Linked DNA regions of Homo sapiens. The protein of the gene in region 2 interacts with the protein of the main gene of each other region in a biochemical or structural test. Each region holds a gene or a part of one and is shown on either strand. Other genes may lie near its edges.

Region 1 (7,111 bases), on a different chromosome or scaffold from region 2:
CTGGTCTCAGGTGGAAACATTCTCTGATCCACAGCACATTCAACTCCCACCCTTTTCATGCCACTTTCACATACCCTATTCTTTCTACTTGGCTACTCCTCCCTATAAAACAACTTCCCCCTTGTACCTAACTCTAGAGACCCTTAAAGATCTTAAGGTCAGAGGTTCTCATATGGCAACAGTCCTTCCTCCCTAAAACGAAACAGTATCTTTCTCCCCTTTGCAATAATCCTTTCCAGTGAAGTCTCTCCTTCCTCAAGCATGGCTTGTTTTTTATTTGGCATTAGAAATACAAATTCTCGGGCCCCACTCCATACTTTCTGAATCAGAAACTGGGGGGGGGGGGGGCGGGGGGTGGAGGGCGATGTACCCAATAATGCATTTCTCACAAGGTCTCCAGGCACAGTGTGGGAAGCACTGATTTGAGGCCATCCTGCTAAGAATCTGATGAGTGCATTCAACACTTTAATTCTCTCCCGCTGGCGTTTGACAGTTTAGGTGCAAGCTGTTTCTGAGGCTTACGGTGGAAAAGTTCTTAGCGTCCCCACAGACTACTTCCCGTAAAGTCACTACCCAAGGGCACACAAGGCCATGGGGCGCCATCTTCCCTCCCACCGCGTGGGGCCGAGGAAGCCCAAACCCGCACCTACTTACATCTCCGTCCATCGGCCTCTGGTCGTCACAGTCCCTGGTGGGGCTAATGTCCTGGCGCATGACCCAGATGGGCTCTTTGGGCTCGTCGGGGGTGTAAGGCGAACGGATGGTCCTGGTTTTCACCTCCTCGATGGCCTCCTTGATGTCCTTGATGGCCAGCGAGATGGCATCGCGCTTCTCCTTGCTGTACCGCTGCCCCGCCTCGCCGCCGCCCGCGGGGCCCACCGCCCGCTGCTGCCCCGCCGGCGCCTGCAGCCCGGGGCTGTCGGGGCGACCCCCGGCCGGGGTAGGGGGACGCTCCAGGTCCTGCTCGGCCTCAGGCATGTCCTCGGCTGCCTTGTCGAGGCTCTGCGAGCTCATGCTCTGCTTCACCTCGGCCACTATCTGGTCGATGTCCTCCTCCTGCTCGTAGCTGTCCATGCGCGGGTAGGGCGCGAACTCGGCCTCCTTCTCGGGGCTGTCGGACTCGCCGTCGGAGCGCTCGTCGTAATGGTGCAGCCGCGCGCCCAGGGCCTCCTGGCGGTACGCGGCCGCCTCGTCGCGCTCCTGCTCGTAGAGCCGCAGGCCGTCGCGTGCGTCCAGCTCGGGCGCGTCCCCTATCTCCTCGTACACGTGCTCCTGGAGGCCGCCGTAGTCGGCATAGGGCTCGGAGTAGGGCTCGTCCTCACCGCGGTGGAAGAGCCGGTGCGTGTAGACGTAGCCTGAGTAGGCCGCATTCATGGCTTCCTCGTGCTCCAGCGAGTGGAAGTGCAGGTGGTTGGGCAGCGCGCGGCGGTGCGTGGCCTCGGCGTGCTCGGCCTCTGCCTGCTCCGTGTACTCCTCGGCCTCGGGCCGGTACTGCACAGCATAGGCGCTCTCGTCCTCGGGGTCCTGCGCGCGCTCCGCATCGTAGCCGTCGCGGGCCGCGGCGATCACGTCGCCCTCGGCGGTGTCCGTGTGGTTGTGGAAGCCGCTCTCCGTGCTGGCTGAGCGCGCCAGGCATTCCCCGCGCTCCTCTTCCTCCTGGCCGAGCTGGGCGCGGAGGTCCTCGAGGGCTCGCCCGCGCTGGTGGCGGCCCACATAGTGCTGCTGCTGCGGCGGCTGCTGCTGTTCCTCTTCCACCTCGGGGTGCTCCAGGTCGGCCTCCACCGACTCGTTCACCTCCCCACCTGCCGCCTCGTCGGTCACCTCCACCTCCGCAGACCCCTCCAAGTGGTTCATGGTGGGAGTCGGAACGGCTAGGAGAGAAGCTGGGCCCGGCTCACTGCGCTCTCATTTTGCTCCACTGGGCTGGAAAAACAAGAAGGGGAGAGGCTGTCACGTGGTGCAAACAGTCGTTATGAGCTGAGTATTCAGATAACCATAAAAACAACTGCTATTGATTCCTTTTAGTTCTGGGTCAATTAAAAAAAGACTGCAAATTTAAGTTCAATCTGACAGCACATACATAGCACGCATCATAATTTGTAATTACATATCTACTTGTTTAATTGCTTATTGCCTTTCTCCGTTCCCACCCCTCACACTGAGCGCCTCAGGAACGTTTTGTTCTCCACCACGCATACGATTCAGGTCCCATTTCTGATGCATCTGAATAAAGAGTACTACTAAATTGAATGGGCCAACTGACACATTTTCCATCTGCTAACAGATAAATCTCTCCAAATTAAACTAGGATCCTACAACTTTAGAAATCACTCTTTACATCAATTTCAAAGAAACATAATCTTGAACACCTTTTGAAGCCATTCTGAGAGAGGCTATCAGCCAGCAGTGGGGTCCCGCCCCGGTTCTGTCATTACTGACTTTGTGACCTCAGGCAAGTGGCTTAATTTTCTGGACCTCCACGGTGTGACTGGACTCATTTCCTACATGCAGGATGTTAACAGCTATTATATAGGGTAAAAAAGACTCGGTGGTCAAGTAAGTTTGGAAAATGCTGAGTTACAGTTGACTTTTCATTGTTAATATCCAGAAGGAGGAAGATGCAGGACACAGGGTTTCCCTAACTTGTTTGACCAGGAGACACTTTTTCCTAGAGGCCAATGTTACATAGCAGCTGGTTTCTAATAGTTAGGCTTCCCTATTGCGCACTCAGCATCCAGGATACAACCAACCACGGAAGACAATATTAGGGGAAAATATCCAACACAATACAACAATAAAAAATAATGCAAGTAAAAATACAGTATAACAACAATTTATATAGCATTTATATTGTATTAGGTATTATGAGAAATCTAGAGATGATTTACAGTATATGGGAGGATGTGCATAGATCATATGCAAATACTATACCATTTTATAATGGATTTTTATATCCACTGGGGTCCTGAAACCAACCCCCATGGATACCAAGGGAGGACTATATTCACTTTCCCCATGTAACCTGAATCTAAAATTCTAAGATTTTATGAGTTGCCATTATAGCTAGAACTGGATAACAGGTGTAATTTTTTAAAAATATGGGTAGGTCTCTTTCTATTTTCAGAGAAACTTGTAGCTCGAGAGAAAGATTTGGTTTCAGTCTCTCTCAATTCTTCTTATCACAAAATAGCTTTATGGTATAATCTGTGCAGTATATAGAAATAGACACAAAGAATGTAAACAACCACAACAAAACAGGCAGGACCCCTATGATTTTGAGATCCCTATGGTAAATAGGCTCAACAGTATGTGTAAACTTGCTATTATGTTCTTTTGGAGAGCCTTTCTTACAAATGGACACAATGGATGGGAAGTGAACTCTTAAATATGATAACAGACAACCCCAGGAGGACCAGGGACATCTGATGGACTCTCTAGTAGTGAGATGCATTATATTCTACTCAACTCCCCATCACAACCACAGCAATTTCCTTCAAGCATTGATGACCATCCCAATAACAAAGGAGATCATTTTGGAGCTACCAAGTCCACATTCAAGCAGAAGTATCATGTCTTCCCCATTCTTTGATGGATCCACCCCTGACTGATTCTCGCTAGAAGAAAAGAATCACGGTTTACAAGAGATGAACAATCTTTATTGCTTCGCTACTTGACATAAGTCCCACTTGATACAAATTAGACCCAACCTCTTTTGAAAAATTTTGGGCTCCTCCCATTAACTCCTGAGAACAGCGACTGTGGACTAAGTATAAGAAAGTCTCCAAAAGCAAGTATGAATCTCCCTTCAAACCTTGATGGATGGTTAAGGCTGTAAACCAGCAGCAGGGTGGGGTGGGGAATGATTAGAAGCTGTTCCACCTCAGATCATGAGGCATTAGTTAGATTTTCATAAGAGTGCATGACCTAGATCCTTTGCATGTGCAGTTCACAATAGAGTTCATGCTCCAATACTGGTCCATGGCCCAGTGGTTGGGGACCCCTGCTCTAAACAGAAGCAGCAAGTGTTGCTGCTACGGGCCTCCAGTGGATTATAAGAAACACAAAACAAATATTCAATTCAATACAACACATGGACAAGAACATCATACCCAAGTTGCCTTCATAAGGACTTTCTCAAAAAGACAACAGATAAACCTTCATTAAATCTACATTGGGTTCTTAAGGTACAAATCTAATTCTAATAAACACAAAGTGAGCATTCACAGAAAGGGATAGCAAACATATCACAGACTTTCTTGGGTTCTGTTACCCAGAGGTGTCACAGTTGTGTGTGGTCAGCGTAAGAAAAACAGTAACAAAAACCACAGAAAGTACCTGAATGACCAACAATTCATGATAACCATATGTGGAACTGACCAAAATGCTGCCTTCAGGGAAAATGGCTGTTCTTTAGCTTGATGAAAATCTATTGACATATGTATTAAAAAGAAATTTTAGCTTATTCTGGGTTAAAATCGGTGAATGGTGCCCTCTTATAACCCATGTATTGATTCAAAGGAAATGGAACTTCCTTGCGTGTATATACACTAAACTGTGGTAAAGGAAGTTCTCTGGTGGGGCAGGGGGTGGTGGAAGATAGTGTTAATGTAGTTTTGGTACAATAGATCTTTTTGTTCACTAAGTACCTTCTCCTTATACCCCCATCCACAGACCTCACGGGAGTATTTACACATACAGTGTTTGTATTTTACACACCATCATGTTTCCAAGAATATGATTTGGGTTGTGGTATTGCAACATGTTAATGAATAACAGACATTGACTTTGGGGGTTTCCCTAGGACAAAAAGGCAATTGTCAACTTTTAAGGAAGGAGCCGAAGTTGATGCTTAGGTTTATCCCTACACACAAGAGGACTGTTCTCCATACGCTGGCAACTTTGGGAGTGGTATTTATAAAAAACATTTAAGCTGCTTTTTAAAAATCCTAGGTTATTGTGGGAGTATATTATTGGTACAAAATTTTTGAAAAGCAATTTGGCAAGATGAATTAAATTCTTCAAAAGGTAACATACCTTTTGCCCCAGTAATTCTACATATAGAAGTCTAAAAGAAAAAACTTGAATGTGGACAAAAATGTTTCTCACAGTATTTTCTTCAAAAGCAAAAATTTTAAACACCAAATATTAAGCGCTAATATTTATTAGGTACTGATAAGTACAATGCTAATCATATTAGGGTTATATTGTGATCAGAAAGATGTGGGGGTTTTCTCTCTGGGAAGCTCCACCTGGAGTTCCCATAACACTTCAACTCAGCCAGCCACAGCTGAAGAAATCACACCTCCTCACCTTCCCTACCCACCCTCGCTCTCAAACTGGGTTCCCTCCTGTATTTCCCATATGGGCAAATGGTACCACCAGCCACCCACTGAATCATCTCCTTCCCTTATCTCCCTCCTCAAACTGATGCCAGAGTCCACTGTCTTAATAACTCTTGGATCAGTCTTGCTGCCACTGCTTTGTCTTGGTCTGTCTTGACTACCTGGTTGTTTCCTTGACTCTGATTTATCAGCCCCCTCCAGTCCATCCTCCCCACTGCCAGCCTGATGATCTTTAAAAAATACAAATCTGAATCCCATAACCCTACTCCTCAAACTCTTCAGTGATTCCCTTCTAGGGCACAGTATAAATGCTTAGCTAACTATGTCCCAGGTACTACTAGGCATTTTCCACGTGACACATTTAACCTTCACACTAGCTAATGAAGAGTACTGCCATTATCAGCTCTTCTGAAAATGAAGAAACAAGTGATTAGAAAGGTTAGGTGATTGTCCCAGGTCACACATCTGGTAAGGGAGGCCCCCTGACATTTGATCTTTGCACTCTAGCTCTGGGGTCTGGGCTCTTGAGTCCTATTCCTGGCCAACAAAGACCTTGGGATGCTTCACCCCTTTAGTCCATCTCCACACTTCATCCCGCACCCTGCATTCTAACAGCCAAAGTCCTGGTGTTGGCCCTAACTGCCCTCCCTATTCATGGCATATTTTAACCTATAACTTTTCTTTGGTGAATCTTTCTTGTCTTCCCCAGGCCACATTCATACTTGATGAATGTTAATTAGGTGCCAGCCTCCAGGCACATTCGAGGCACTGGGGCAGAACAGTGAGCAAGCCAGAGGAGGCTTCCCTGCTTTCAGGAAGTCCCCATTCTAGTGCACTGGGTCGGGGGTCAGAGGGAAAAAAGGGCAGACAATAATTATGTAAGTAAGTAAACAAGATAACTTCATAGGGAAACATTTTATGAAGGTAATACAAAACAGAGTAACGCCATAGAAAATGACTGAGGAGAGGACATTATGTAGATATTATTCAAAGAATGAGATATTTGAGTTGAGGTCTGAATAATCAAGAAAGAGGTGGCCTTGTGAAGATCTGAGGGCAAGGGCTTTGAGGTGAGAAAGGATCAGCTGTGTTCAAGGACAGAAATAATGTTTGTAGGCAGGTGTGGCGTGAGTAAGGGACAGTGTGATGGGCGATGAGGACAAAGAGATGGAAAGGGGCTGAGTTGGGCAGGGTCTGGTACATCATGGTAAAGGATGTGGATTTTATTTCAAGTGTGGTGGCATGCTACTGGGGAGTTTAAGCAGGGGATTGATAAGGCCCAACTAAGCCTCCCTTTGTGCCCGCTGTGCTTTTTCTCTCTCTCCCTTTCCCTTTCTCTCTCCGTCTCACACATACTCACACCATTTTATACACACACACACACACACATATATAAATTATATATATATATATGTGTGTGTGTATATATATAAAATTTATCATGGCTTCTATCATTCTGAGTGGTAATTCTTTGTAAGTATCAAGTCCTTAAGAAAAAGATGTTTTGTCATGTATCTTTGATTTTCTGATGCCAAGCACAGAGGGTATACAGAAGGTGGTAAAGGAATTTTTAGTAACTGAAAAAGGAAAAATCTTTATCCCCCACCCCTCCCACCCAATAGTTGGGGCCTTATAGACTTCTAGACATTGGCATGATCAGCCTTTGGAGAAGAACTCATTTCTTCTTTCTATCTTAAATCTTTGCTGCCCTTATTCACTCATGCAAACTCCTTCAACTTCTTCTAATGCTTTAAGTGCCTAAAGAATGC
Region 2 (7,111 bases):
GAGCAAGCTGGGCACATTGGCTCATGCCTATAATCCTGGCACTTTGGGAGGCCGAGGTCGGGGGGAATCACTTGAGGCCAGGAGTTCGAGACCAGCCTGTCCAACATGACAAAACCCCATCTCTACTAAAAATACAAAAAGTAGCTGGGCTTGGTGGTGAATGCCTGTAATCCCAGCTACTTGAGAGGCTGAGGCACTAAAATTGCTTGAACCCAGGAGGCAGAAATTGCGGTGAGCCGAGATCACGCCACTGCACTCCAGCCTGGGCGACTGAGCGAGACTCTGTCTCTAAATAAATAAATAAATAAATAATCGATGAACGAATAAATGAGAACTAAATGGGGCAATGTGTATAAATCGGCACTTAGTAGATAATCAATTTATGTAATTTACTGTAGCTTTCATTCTTGAATATATGTAAAAACATGTAAAGACTTATCAACATTGCATTGATTTTTCATATAAAGATATTATCTTTAGGCAGGGTGTAGTGGCTCATGCCTATAGTCCCAGCGTGTTGGAAGGCCAAGTGGGGAAGATCTCTTGAACCTAGGGGTTCCAGACTAGCCTGGACAACATGGCAAAACCCTGTCTCTATAAAAAAATACAGAAATTAGTGGGGCATGGTGGCATGCACCTGTAGTCCCAGCTACTCGAGAGGATTGCTTGAGCCAGGAGGTTGAGGCTGCACTGAGACAAAATCACACCCCTATATACCAGCTTGGGCAAGAGTGTGAGACTGTCTCAAAAAAAAAAAAAAAAAAAAAAAATATATATATATATATATATATATATATATATATATATACACACACACATATATATTTGAATTTTATTTACGGAAGCATCAGAAAAGAATAAAATACTTAGGAACAAATTTAACAAACAGCATAAGACTATACAAAACACTGCTGGGAGAAATTAAAGGAGACACATGTATTAGTTTGTTCTCATGCTGCTAATAAAGAGATAACCCAAGACTGGGTAATTTATAAAGGAAAGAGGTTTAATAGACTCAAGTTCCACATGGCTGGGGAGGCCTCAGGAAACTTACAATCATGGCAGAAGGGGAAGCAAACATGTCCTTCTTCACATGGCAGCAACAAGGAGAAGCACAGAGCAAAGAGAGGGGAAATCCTTTTATAAAACCATCAGATCTCGTGAGAACTCAACTATGACACACACAAAATTCTATTTTTCTGCTAACAGAAATAAAATCCCCAACTGATGGACCACTTTTCTGATCTAGTTTTTGATTGTTTTTTAGGAACTTAAAATTCTTAGTGACTCATATTTTAAAATGCACAGACTCAGTTTCTGTTTTAAGGAATATGGCACAAAGATATTTAGGGAAAAAGTATGTATGTACACGCACATATATACATAGTATATGTGCACACAAACATTAATGAGGTGGTAAAACTTCTAAAATAGAGTCCATATCAACATCCTCTTTCTGGAGTCTGTCTTTCTTCCATTCTTTTTATTTATCTCCCCTAATTAATACTGGACTGTTTTTTAACTTGTATACTTTTTTTCCTTTCTTTTTTGTAGTCTGCCTTCTTTCTATTCTCTTATTATTTCACCATTTTCTCTTGATAGGGAAAACAGCAGCCAGGCAATAGAACTTTACATTTGTTTTCACCACAGAAGGAAGCTATCATTGTGTGGTACAGAGGAAAACTTGTTTTCCTTACCTAATGACTTTTATTTTATATTGGAAAAATCATGTCTCTTATGGAAAGTTATGATGTTTGTGAGTCTCTGGCTGTCTATGGCATTAGGACAGTTGACAATATATCAACAGTATTTTATAAAACTGCTCTTGGGGCAGATACTTACCATTCTGAGTGGAGAACAATCAGATACTCAAACTAAAGTTCAAATACAAATATTTAAACCAAAGTTGCCATTGTCTTGTTATTTGTAAAATGAGAAAAGTAGGGATGAGAATAAGCTACCTGGCAGGAATGTATAAAGATTAGAGATGATCATGTAAAAGGCTTAAAACAATCTCTGATATGAAGCAAGTGCTGAATACATGAAAATCATTATCACTGGAAATTTTGTTTGTCCTTAATTGTCCTTAATTGACTATGTTGTATTGATTTGTTTATTCATTATTTCTTCCACAATCATGAATCCCATTTGAATCCTAAACTGCTGGCCACCATTAAACTTATTATTTGTTAACTTCTTTGTTTTGTTTTACAGGCAACAATTGGCATTGACTTTTTATCAAAAACTATGTACTTGGAGGATCGAACAGTGAGTAATATTTTCAGTGTGCAATTTTCTGCAACATTCCAGGTTAGAAAACTGCAATCAAAGTTATCAATGATTGTCACCATAAGAAGTACTTAGCAAAGTTACCAAAGATAGTTTACAGTTGTTGAGAAAAACTCTTATTACCGAGTGAGTAGTACTTGGCAGTCATCTTGATTTGGAAAAATGAAAACAAAGAGCTTTACAGAGAATTAAAGGAGAATTTTTATGAAGAAATTAAACCTGCTAAAGACCTTCTAAATGCCACCCTTGAGGCATTCAAAAAGATTTCAATTTGTGAACTTCAAGATTTTTTTTGTCAGGATAGGATGCGTATCAAAGTGACTGACAAAAAAGAAGTTATGTGGGCAGGGTGCGGTGGCTCACACCTGTAATCCCAGCACTTTGGGAGGCTGAGGCAGGTGGATCATCTGAGGTCAGGAGTTTGAGACCAGCTTGGCCAACATGATGAAACCCCATCTCTATTAAAAATACAAAAAATTAGCCAGGCGTGGTGGCGGGCGCCTATAATCCCAGCTACTTGGGAGGCTGAGGCAGGAGAATCGCTTGAATCCAGGATGCAGAGGTTGCAGTGAGCTGAGATTGCGCCATTGCACTCTAGCCTGGGCAACAAGAGCGAAACTCCGTTGCAAAAAAAAAAAAAAAAAGTAATGTGTATTTATTTGTTGGATTTTTGTCTTTCATCCTTTGGAATGTTTTCTTTAAATACAGTGTAAAATCTGTATTCTAGCCCACTACCCCTTGAAGAGATACTTGTCACCTAAACAGTGAATATCTTAAATGCAGTACTTTGAGACCTGCACCCAAAAACATTATTTAATTTCCAGTGTTATTTCTTAGGTGTTTTTTTTTTCCTGAATATTCTCTTTTATGTTTTGATATATAGCATGTCATTTCTTAAAATTTGAAAGCGGCCAGGTGTGGTGGCTCACGCCTGTAATCCCAGCACTTTGGGAGGCCAGGATGGACAGATCACCTGAGGTCAGGAGTTGAAGACCAGCCTGGCCAACATGGCGAAACCCCATCTTTTCTAAAAATACAAAAATTAGCTGGGCGTGGTGGCGGGCGCCTGTAATCCCAGCTACTCGGGAGGCTGAGGCAGGAGAATCGTTTGAACCCGGGAGGCAGAGGTTGCAGTGAGCCGAGATCACACCACTGCACTTCAGCCTGAGCGACAAGAATGAGAGTCTGTCTAAAAAAAAAAAAAAAAATTTGAAAGCTTGGAAACGACTTTATCATGATGCAAGAACTTGATACTTGTTTTCAGGCTTTTCTTCCTGTAATATAGATATGGATAGTACGTAAAGACATTTTTATGTAGGGCTGCAAAAAGATCTTCCTCCTTTTTGTTACATTATACACACACACGCGTGCATGCGTGCGCGCACACACTCGCATGTTCTGGGGAAAATGTATGGGAGAAATACAAGCACGGTAGTTAAAAAACAGGTTTGAAAGTATTCTAGACCCAATAGGAAAGAGACACATTTTAGCTTGAGAGAAGCTTTCAAAGAAGCATTAATTCCTTTACTCTGATAGCTTAGGCTGCTCATTGACATTTACCTTAGGTTTTTTTGTTTTGTTTTGTTTTTTTCTCTATTTAACCATCAACAGTCTACTTTTTGCCACTTGAAAGGCATAGGGATTCAAACAGGTTTTAGGTAGGGAAAAAGGGAAGCCATATTTCTGATTCTGTGAAATTTTTCCCAGTGGCATTTTCCAGTCATTTATGTTTGGAGTATGCAAATTTTTAATATTTCTCCCTTTTGAAAAAGGAGTTTTGTGTTATTTTCATTCCTCACTCCCTGCAACCTCTTGCATGAGTCTTCTTTCTACTTCCTTCCCACCCTCTCCCTTTTACAAAAAACATTGTTTCTTTTTTCTTTTTAGTATTAGTTTGGTTTTTTTTTTTTTATTTATTTTTTCCCATCTCACAGATCAGGCTTCAGCTGTGGGATACTGCGGGTCAGGAACGTTTCCGTAGCCTCATTCCCAGTTACATCCGTGATTCTGCTGCAGCTGTAGTAGTTTACGATATCACAAGTAGGTATATTGCAACGGGTTGACCTTTCTTATTTTTCTTGCTTGTTTGACTGATTTTGTTGTTAGGTACGATTGCAATTATGGGACACAGCAGGTCAAGAGCGGTTCAGGAGCTTGATTCCTAGCTACATTCGTGACTCCACTGTGGCAGTTGTTGTTTATGATATCACAAGTGAGTGGAGGGAATTATGCATTTCTAATCTTCTTTCAACCTTTAGCTTAGCTGCATGCATGTTCTTGTCTTGTGCTTGTTTTCCTTACTGGCATGTAAAAATAAGTTTTATCATAGTAAATTACATACCAGCCAGGTCAGAAATATTTGCTTTGGTGTTTATACCAATATGCTTTATATGTAACTGTGCCAGGTTTTTTGCCCCAGAAATTTTCTTTTGGGTCCAACTATGAATCCTCTTCAAGGGTTTCTTAGTATCCTGTTATTCGTAAACCATACCATAATTATAGTTGGAGGAATGTTTCCTTGATCTCAGATTTCTCTAAAATAAAATGATCTGCATTTAAGTCTCTTGCCAGGTTTTCCAAATCCTCCAAGCTTTCTATTGAGGCTATTACAAGCTTCTGCTAGCCAGCTTTTCTCTGCTTTCCCCTTCCAGCCATTCTCTCTCTGTAGAGGAAGACAGAGAAAACATAATGTACAGTTTTCTATTAATCTTTTTTATTTGAATCATATTTTGGTTCTGTGACTGATTTATTTACTTTGTTGCTAACAAATTACACTTTCATTTCTCTCCAAGAAAAAAATTTTAAATAGGAGGTGAAACAACTAGTAGTCTTTTTCTTTTTTCTAAAGATTGAATAATGCCTGTGGCCTTTTAAGTGATTGTAAATTTTCCATGAAGCATTGGTGACTGACAAGAAAATGCTTTCTGATTGAAATTGCCTTTGTAAATTGGTTTATGACATATATTAGGCAATATTAAACATTATTACATGTAGTGGTTCATAACTTATAGGAAAACCAGGGTCTTGAACTCCTGGGTTCAAGTGATCCTCCTGCCTCAGCCTTCTAAAGTGCTAGGTTTAGGCCGGGCACAGTGGCTCACGCCGGAAATCCCCATATTTTGGGTGGCCAAGGCAGGCGGATCACCTGAGGTCAGGAGTTTGAGACCAGCCTGACCAACGTGATGAAACTCCATCTCTACTAAAAATGCAAAATTAGCCAGGTGTGGTGGTGCATGCCTGTAATCCCAGCTACTTGAGAGACTGAGGCAGGAAAACCTCTTGAACCTGGGAGGCGGAGGTTGCAGTGAGCCAAGACCGTGCCATTGCACTCCAGCCTGGGCAACAAGAACAAAACTCTGTCTCAACTACAACAACAACAACAAAAACTAAAGTGCTAGGGTTACAGGCATGAACCATTGTGCCCAGCCCAGTATCTGGGGCTTTCTTTTTAAATTTTTAAAAAATGTGTACCACACTACACAGATGTAGTATCTTGGGCTAAAAAAAATCTTAAATAGACAAAGGAACTATTCATTTGGACTAGTAATACTGTTACTATGCATTCTTGCATATCTCCTCAATTAGGAATTGTTATCTAATAACGAATAATTGTGCTGGCAAAATTAGAAGATTGCATTCAAGGACTTTTTTTGAGATAGGTGCTATATGCAGTCTTTCTTCCTTTGCACCTTTACTTTGGGTTGCTGTTTGTTTAAAAAAAAGAGGTATGTTCATATTGTGCATTGACACGTTTTGTAGCTTTAAAATGTTTGTGCTTACTTTAACCACAGCAAGTGAAACCTGGTGTATTTTTTTTTAAATCCACAAATGTGATTCAAATATTAGTACGTTGTTTTCTTTAGCTGCTGTAAGAAGTGTTGAAGTACTCTACTTAGAATCCAACACTAGAAAAGATAAATTTTGTTACAAGTGTTTCTGATGCATTAAACAAATAAACTTTAGGTTAAAGTGATCACAAACTGAGGAAGCAGTGCAAACAGTGGTGTTGAAAGCTATTGAAAGGCTTTACAGATTTTCTGGATGTGTTGGGACTTACTGGCTGACATACTTTGGAAAATGCTTTCTTTGTCATGTTTGGTATGTGTAAGTGATCAAAAAAGCATTGTGGCAATGTGACACCATATTATCTGCCATAGCTGTCCTTATATTTCAAAAAGTTGTTTTTTTTTCAATTAAATACTACATTGTACTCATTTGATCATGTTCAAAAAATTTTTAAACTACTCTAAAAGGAACCTTGAAGATTTTATTCTTGTAATTTGTTTAAATTGCTGACAGTTGTAATCAGATAAAATGGAGTTATGTTGCAGGCACATTAAAAGTGGGGTACTAATGTGCCAGCCCCCTTCCAACTTCCAGGGCTTTTTTGGAGGGAGGTGCCCACCACCTGGGGAGGCATTTTTCAGCAACACTAATCTCTCTGTCTACCCTCCTATACTAGATGTTAACTCATTCCAGCAAACTACAAAGTGGATTGATGATGTCAGAACAGAAAGAGGAAGTGATGTTATCATCATGCTAGTAGGAAATAAAACAGATCTTGCTGACAAGAGGTATGGAGTTATTTTATATGTGTGTAATGTTTGATTTCTGTGATGCAGCCTTTTATTTTTGTTCACTGAGAAATTGTTTTGAAAGGAGACATGCTTAATCCTTAAGTTTACGTCCTCCCCTGCTTTTCTTTAGCATGGGAACCTCAAATATAAATGTAAATATTAAACAGCCAGTCCTTAAGGGAAATGAATTTTATTTTGTTTAAGCCCATGTGTAAATAACTCTTGTGCAAGTTTGTTTAGACATG
Region 3 (7,749 bases), on a different chromosome or scaffold from region 2:
AGCATGTCAATATTATCATATAGATCTTATAACTTCCATCTTGACTGCTCTTCTGTTGAGTTCTTGGCTCTGCTGTGCTGCAGATTACACAGGCTTCCAGATAAGTCACCTCCAGTGAGATGTAATGTTACTGGGACGACTTTTAACGTTCAACCAATGGTACTTGTCTATAATCCACAAAACTGTCATTTAAATGACTTTTTAAATGGCAAAATACCCTGAAAATGACAATTCTGTACCCAAGCTGAAGAGCACCTTCTAGACCCTTACCACATATATCTATTTTTATCCTCTCCCTTGAGACTCCAGTTGGCCCTCCTTCTTTATTCCATTTTCTTCTATTTTTTCCGCAATTCCACTTTAGCTTACTCTTCTGTCTTTGGATGTTCAAGAGATATTTACTGTATTTTCTAATCAGAAGGAAATGGGCTTAACTAAGAAAATACAAAGTTTATTTTTTTCCATAATCTCTCGAAAATATGATCTTAAGGAACAATTTCCATCTTGCATTACAGAAAATGATAATGCAAGTTAATCAAGGTGAAAGGGATTATAAAATATTATCTTCCATGATTATACTTGATGAAGCAATTGTTCCTTTATGACATTTTAACTAGGACTAAATCTGCTAAAAAGTATATCTAATAGCCTATTTCTTCATGTTTCTGATGCATGCATTATTGCTTCTACTTTTATTAATACAACTGAATCTATGAAACACTGCTTTTTCTATGATTTGCTCAATGTAATACATTTAATAAAGCAAACATTTTAAAGGCTACTTTCAGCAAACTATTTCACAAGAGAAATATCCCAAGCACACTAAAAAATAAATCAAATTAAATCATGATTGGAATTGTTGGAATCATTTATTTGGGGAATGACTCTTTTATTCAATTTTTACACTTTTGATGTACCTAAAAGCAAAATTACATATCATAAATTTAAGCAATGTGCTTGATAAAACCTAGAATGTGTCACCAATAAACAATATGAAAAATTTAAGTTTTAAGATTAACTTCAAATAAGTTCTTCCCAAACACTGAAAAATAACATTGCACTCACTGGGATAAGTATAAAATGAGTATTTTTCCAAATATAAGCGATGTCACCTGATGCAATTCTCTGGCTCACTCACTGTAACTTCCTACCTCTACCATAACAGACTCCATCAGGATGGATGTCTTCCAATTCTGAACTGTACAGAAGGCAAAATATTTATGAAAAACATTAGCATCATTCATAAGAATTAACATTCATCAATTAAAATTTGAACCCAGACCTGAAAAAAAAAATTGTTGATTAAAAAAATTGTTAAAAACACCTCAAGTTCCTACACAAAAAAAGCAAGATTATAAAACTCAAGTATGGTATAACAACTATTCCAAAATGGATGCTGTTCTCAGTTTTAGTATAGACTTAAAAGAAAAAATGAATAGTCCATTGGCTCTTTCCAGCTCTCATCCAACATCTGTTCATAGCAGCTACAACCAGGTTATTTGCAGCCATGCAGTTATTTTCAGGCTAAGAATAAACCTGTCCATGCTGTTCTGAGAACTGTTACCCAGGCATTTTTTGTTAGACAACATAAAGACCATCTATTTTACCTTCCTTATATTCAAAAACAAGGAAACTGAGGCTCAGAGAGATTTAGTGCCTGGCCCTCCCAATTCAAGCAATTCATACTAGCACTAAGCAAGACCTAAAACCAAGTTTTCTCAATTGTTTCTACGAATATGGGTCAACTCTGAGGATCAGAACCACTGACTGTTTTCCTGGGATGGAATGGGCCTTTGGAAATTTACCAGCTGTGTGATCCTGAGCAAATTACAACTTTTCCAAGTCCCCTTTTCCTCTTCTACAAAATGCAGAGAGTACCTACTACTCTAACAAGGTTGTGAGGATTATGTTCGGCTTGTAAAGTGCTTAGCACAGTGATTAGGAAATTTTAAGCATTCGAAAACAGGTAGCTATTATTTTTACTCCCAACCTGAAAACATGGCTGCTCCTAATCATGGCTGTATGAGAAGACAACGAACTGAATTCATTAACACAATGGACAGGGTCCCATCCACCAGAGCTTCTCTGGCCTACCACATTCTACAAACAGTAAAAAACCCCATCAAACAACCTATTTCATTCCATCTAAAATGATCATCCCTTACACTATTAAAAAAAATTGAAATTGCTGCCATATGTGTTCTGCTACGTGTTGTACACTGAATATGTCAACTAGAAACTGCAGAGGAGTTTCTGGTTCCACCCAAAACATGAAGAACAAACGACGGGAAAACAAGAGTTAGATAAGGTCACACACCTGAACTGGAACTCAGGACCTTATTCTCAGCACATTTAGTTATTGATGGTAGAAAGCAAGATGCTTTAAGCACCATAAAGCAGGAATAATGGCTACCTCAACAAAATAAAATTCCCTAGGTTTCTCAACAAAATAGAATCCGTTTACTTTCCCTAGTAAATTCATACGCACATGGGCAATAATTGAGCATCTTTCTTGTAAAACTGAGGATTAAGCTGTGTCTGAGCTGCGATGTATGCTAAGATCATACAAATCTATGAAAAAGTCCTATGAAATGGCGAGACAAAATGATGGGGAATATCACCTTGAAATCAATAAGGAAGGAATCATAATGTCTTGCCAAAGTCGTCTCCGTTGATAAAATCCCGACCCTCCATTTCATGACACTGCACATCCACTTCCCTCTAAGGAAATTAACAGGAATCACCGCAGCAACCAACCTCAGCAATCAGCATCGACCAGATCAACCCCTACTCAAATGGCGATAAGCACTGCGGGTCCCAGCCCCTCCCTGTAACTGCCAACTCCCGCGCTGACTCCGGACTACCTCACTTCCTTTCAGTTCTCCCTCCCACTCTCGACCCACGATGTTTGTCCCAAAACTCGCCACTGACAGAAAAAACAGAAACAAGACAGTCTTCCTAAACTTTGTCCAGGAAGCACCAGGCTACACATACCCGTCCCTATTACGATCACATCAAACTCCGAAGGGAGAGTATCCGCCATCTTGACGGGAAACGTGTCATGTGACTATTACTTGTGGAAATGAGATCAAGTTAGGCATTCCCTCCGTGGAAGGCGGAAAAGAAAACAGTGCATTCTGGGTGTTGTAGTTCTTGGGTGGAAGGTCCAGGCAGGCGACTACAGTATTATATTTAAAATGTTTACACGTAAGTTAAAAGCTCGACTCATTTTCCAGGCTGAATGCTGTAGCTCATTTAGCCTGGAGGGTTGAAGTAGGAAAGAAATGTAGATTTTTATTCCGTTAGCTAGGATGAATGTGGGAGACTTGGATACCCCTTGACAATACTGAAGCAAAATTGTTAGGAGACACGGAGAGCGGAGTGAAATTGAAGGCGGTTTGCTCTGTGAACAAAGGAGACTTTCATTCCAGCCTAAAAAACTGTTTCCCGCCATCGTTTCTGTACTTTCGTGTTGGCCCTCGAGGCATGGTTTTTCACACCAATACTTTCAGAATATATTCCATATCTTTTTCGTTTCCATGTCTCCTCGATGAAAACCCACAAAAAACCTCTCACCCTAGTTTCGCCAGAATGGAACTCCCACCGCGTCCGTATTTGTTCCAGTTAGTCCAGACAGCCACTCGGGCAATAAATTAGCCTTGCTTTACAGGAGGGAAAAAATATATGAAAGCATGGTTGCGCTGGATAAGCGTCTGTTGAGTCTGAATTCGATTTTCCGCACCAACTAGATAAGTTCATGTAAGATTCTCCTTAGTTTACATTTAGTTTCCAATCTATTAGTTTCCATAAGCTACCGTAGAAATAATTAAGGTAAAATGGTCTTTATATTAAAGTGATTGTATCTGATGAGGGGCTTTAGGTCGTCTATGTCTAACAGCTAACATAGCTCTCATAAGTATCTTCAAGGTCTGTCGCCTCCCACCGCTTCCCTCCAACCGCCCCCCACCCTGCCCCCGATTATTTAATACTCCGCTGTCTGACAACACCAAAGCAAAAGGGGAAGGATGCTGGGAATGAAGGAGGATACTTTTTTGACGACAGAAATTTCTTGTGTAGTTATTTTACAAGAGTTTCAAAATAAATCAAAGATAATGTGCAGTAGTGGGCCTTCCCTGACACCACCTATCCGCTAAGATGCTTGTGGTTCCCCAGACATTGTTTTCTTTCCAGTCTCTGACCACGCTCATGCTGTTCTTTCAGCATGGAATGATCTTCCCATTCTCTAGCTAACAGTTATTCCCAGGATGTCGCTGGGCTTCCACCTCCTCCTCCTTTCGTCTCCGTGTGTGGGCTGTTTCCCTACATGGTGCTAGACTTTGTCTTAACCCGCCATACTGCATTTATGACGATTCCTATAGAGTACACATATCCCCATATATCCACACAAAAATACACACCCAGACATGCAATACCATAATTATAAACCCCTGTACAGCATGACAGACACCAAGTCTCATTTATCTTTTTCACTCCTGCACCTAACCTAAGCCCGGTGCATAGTAGGAATTTAATAAATGTTTGCTAAACCAAACTTGATTTTGACTCCCCTAATAGATGGATGAGACGAGTCCCTGTCCTCATAGTGCTTACCATCTTTGCCTTTATATCTGCCCACCACTATCATGTGTCTTATATTTAGAAGATGTTCAGTGTCCATTAATTGTAAATATTTACATGAAAATGCTTTAAAATGTATTTTGATACGCTTTTTACTGCATTTCTCTTGCATTTTACCATAATCATTAGCAACATTGTACATGTTTCATTACTTTCTTTTATAGATCATCCAGTTGTATTACACAACTCTCTTAAGATATGGTCTTTGATTAGTATTTTCTGTAAAACAGATTCCCCTGAGAAGTATAATGTACTGTTCAGTAAACCACTTTGTCATTTGCCTTGGTATGTAAAGCAAGTTTTTAGTATTATCAGAAGTGAAACAGATATTATTTGTGAGACTCTTGATAAGACAGTAGAAAATGGAAACAAATGGATTTCTCAGAGTAAACACAGAAAACTTTCCAAAATCTTCTCTAATAATGAGAAGCCACAGATGGATGGTTAAAAACCTGATAAATAAAAGTATTTCTACCATACTTTGGATATATATTTATATACATTTGTTCATGTATACGAGATATATAAACTACATACATATACTTTTCAATATGAGTATCACTGACCTTCTAGGGATTCAGAAATTTTCTGACAATCACACCATGAAGATGCAATTCATTAATTTGTTTATTCCTCAAATATTCATTCAGCACCTACTATGTGCAAGACACTATTTTGGATGCTGAGATTAGAGCAATGAACAAAACAGACAACAACCCCTGTCTTCATGAAGTTTACATTTAGTAGGGTAAAACAAAATAAACAAGTAATTACTCTGTAGCATAGATTTTCCAATCTGTGCTGCCCTTAGTTTGAAACCTTCTTTTTTTCCCCTAAGGATAGAAAGCACAATCCTCAGAAGGATAATATTACCAACTTATATTTTGCTGTTCTTTCTCTAAAGTTATTATGGGACTTATTCATGCCCTTTTCTGGGCATGGAAAAGATTACTACATTAGGAAAATTTCAATCTTGTGCATGGAGAAAATGCTCCAAATACCTTTTATTTCAAATGTATTTTTGTAGACTTTATGCAAAGTAAAGATGAATATAGGAGTTAATAATTGCAGTAAAAAAAGCGTAAAGCAAAACAGCTGAATTGCATCTATTCTGTTATTCTAAGGACATCTTTTTTTTTTTTTTTTTTTTTTTTTGAGACGGAGTCTCTCTCTGTCGCCCAGGCTGGAGTGCAGTGGCGCCATCTCCGCTCACTGCAAGCTCCGCCTCCCGGGTTCACGCCATTCTCCTGCCTCAGCCTCCCGAGTTGCGGGGACTACAGGCGCCCGCCACCACACACGGCTAATTTTTTGTATTTTTAGTAGAGACGGGGTTTCACCATGTTAGCCAAGATGGTCTCCATCTCCTGACCTCGTGATCCGCCCGCCTTGACCTCCCAAAGTGCTGGGATTACAGGCGTGAGCCACCCCACTGGGCCAAAGACTATGTACATTGGAGATAGTCATCTTGCATAATATGTCTCAGAGATTCTCTGAATTTCTTGAATTTGCATGTCGACCTCTCTTGCAAGGTTGGGGAATTTTTCATGTATTATATCCTGAAATATGTTTTTCAACTTGCTTACTGTCACTTCTTTTCTCTCAGGAATGCCAATGAGTTGTAGGTTTGATCATTTTACATAATCCCATATCTCTCCGAGGCTTCATTCATTTTTTGAAACTCCTTTTTCTTTTTCTTTGTCTGTGTAGGTTGATTAGAATAACCAGTCTTCAAGCACCAAAATTCTTTCCTCTGCTTTGTCTAGTCTGTTGTTAAGGCATTCAACTGTATTTTGAAATTCCTATAGTGAATTTTCCAATTTCAGAAGTTCAGTTTGGTTATTTATTAATATGACTGCTTCATCTGTCAAGTCTTGGATCGTTTTTCTGGCTTCCTTGGATTGAATTTCAAGGATGCTTACTGAGCATCCTTGACATCCAGTTTCTGAATTCTTTGTCTCATTTCAGACATTTCAATTGAAAAGAGATTCTTAGAAAATAGTTGTGTTTGTATGAATGTGTATCTCTTAACACTATGAAAAATAAGCAATAATAATTCAGGAAGTAGATTATTACATCTTATTATAAGTTCCAGACTTATAAAGAATTTTTTTCAATTCAGAACTAGTATTAAAGCTAATTTTGAATTAAAAAATGTGTCTCCAAGCCTGTAGTTGTAGTGGTGGTAAAAATTTACCAGTACCAATACTCTGGACAATAAAACAGAGCTAAAAGTAAAGAAAGTCCAGTCTACTGGAGAATATCCTCAAATTACATGAACTAGTGCTGTTGTGAGTATACAACCCCCTTGAGGAGTTTCACAATATATCCAGATGAAGTTAACTTAAAGTTTTCCATTTCAAATGTGTATAAATACTATTCTATCATACCATTTTTGTTTATAAAATTGAGGTCTTTGAGTTCATGTTCAATTCCATCTTTAAAAGATAATCAATGTCATGACAGCAATTATTTCCATATATTAGAAATATTTTTTAAGTGTTAGTTTTAGTAACAAAATGATTATTTGTACTAACTATTGTATTTGTCAGCTTCTTCAATACAGAAATATTCAGAACACATTTACATTTTTCATAGTCCCTGCAAAACAAAACAAAACGAAACAAAACAAAGAGGCTGAATAATTTTGTGGGAATTTCATCAACCTTTATAGAAAGTCTTGCTATTCTTCTTTTAGCTGTTTAATTGTAATGTCATAGTAACAGAAAGCAGCATACCCAATTTTGCATGGATGAATAAACACATTCAATAAGGAAGATTTAACAGAGTAAATCAAACACTGGATTAAACATTTTCTGCATAACAGACCACAAAATGGGCATTCATTTTACCAATGGATCCTTGGCATTAGAAGCAAATAGAAGTGCATACCAACATAATTAAACTGAATATTCAGTGGCCTGATTGCAAAGTTTCCCAATATTTTATCAAACGATCTTCCAGTTAATTAAAATTGCCTATACATATTCAAGCACACACATAGAAAAGATTAAGTATAGATACTACTCATTTAAATTTATAATTCAATAGATTAACTTGTTTTCTTCTATTTTTTATCCCCAAAGTTTGAATATAGTAAATCTTCAGTATGAT

What was found.
Region 1: the proteins of RAB6A (region 2) and APBA1 form a complex in vitro, tested with the Homo sapiens proteins (one study listed by IntAct).
Region 3: the proteins of RAB6A (region 2) and CHM form a complex in vitro, tested with the Homo sapiens proteins (one study listed by BioGRID).

What each region holds. Positions count from the first base shown.
Region 1 is NC_000009.12:69,515,357-69,522,467, forward strand, and holds part of APBA1 (amyloid-beta A4 precursor protein-binding family A member 1), read right to left. Parts: intron 1,924-7,111; 5' UTR 1,855-1,923; coding exon 655-1,854; intron 1-654. UniProt on the Homo sapiens protein: Putative function in synaptic vesicle exocytosis by binding to Munc18-1, an essential component of the synaptic vesicle exocytotic machinery. May modulate processing of the amyloid-beta precursor protein (APP) and hence formation of APP-beta.
Region 2 is NC_000011.10:73,716,003-73,723,113, reverse strand, and holds part of RAB6A (ras-related protein Rab-6A), read left to right. Parts: intron 1-2,214; coding exon 2,215-2,268; intron 2,269-4,223; coding exon of another isoform or gene 4,224-4,329; intron 4,330-4,395; coding exon 4,396-4,501; intron 4,502-6,751; coding exon 6,752-6,863; intron 6,864-7,111. UniProt on the Homo sapiens protein: The small GTPases Rab are key regulators of intracellular membrane trafficking, from the formation of transport vesicles to their fusion with membranes.
Region 3 is NC_000023.11:86,044,490-86,052,238, forward strand, and holds the start of CHM (rab proteins geranylgeranyltransferase component A 1), read right to left. Parts: upstream 3,070-7,749; 5' UTR 3,044-3,069; coding exon 2,995-3,043; intron 2,840-2,994; exon of another isoform or gene 2,622-2,839; intron 1-2,621. UniProt on the Homo sapiens protein: Substrate-binding subunit of the Rab geranylgeranyltransferase (GGTase) complex.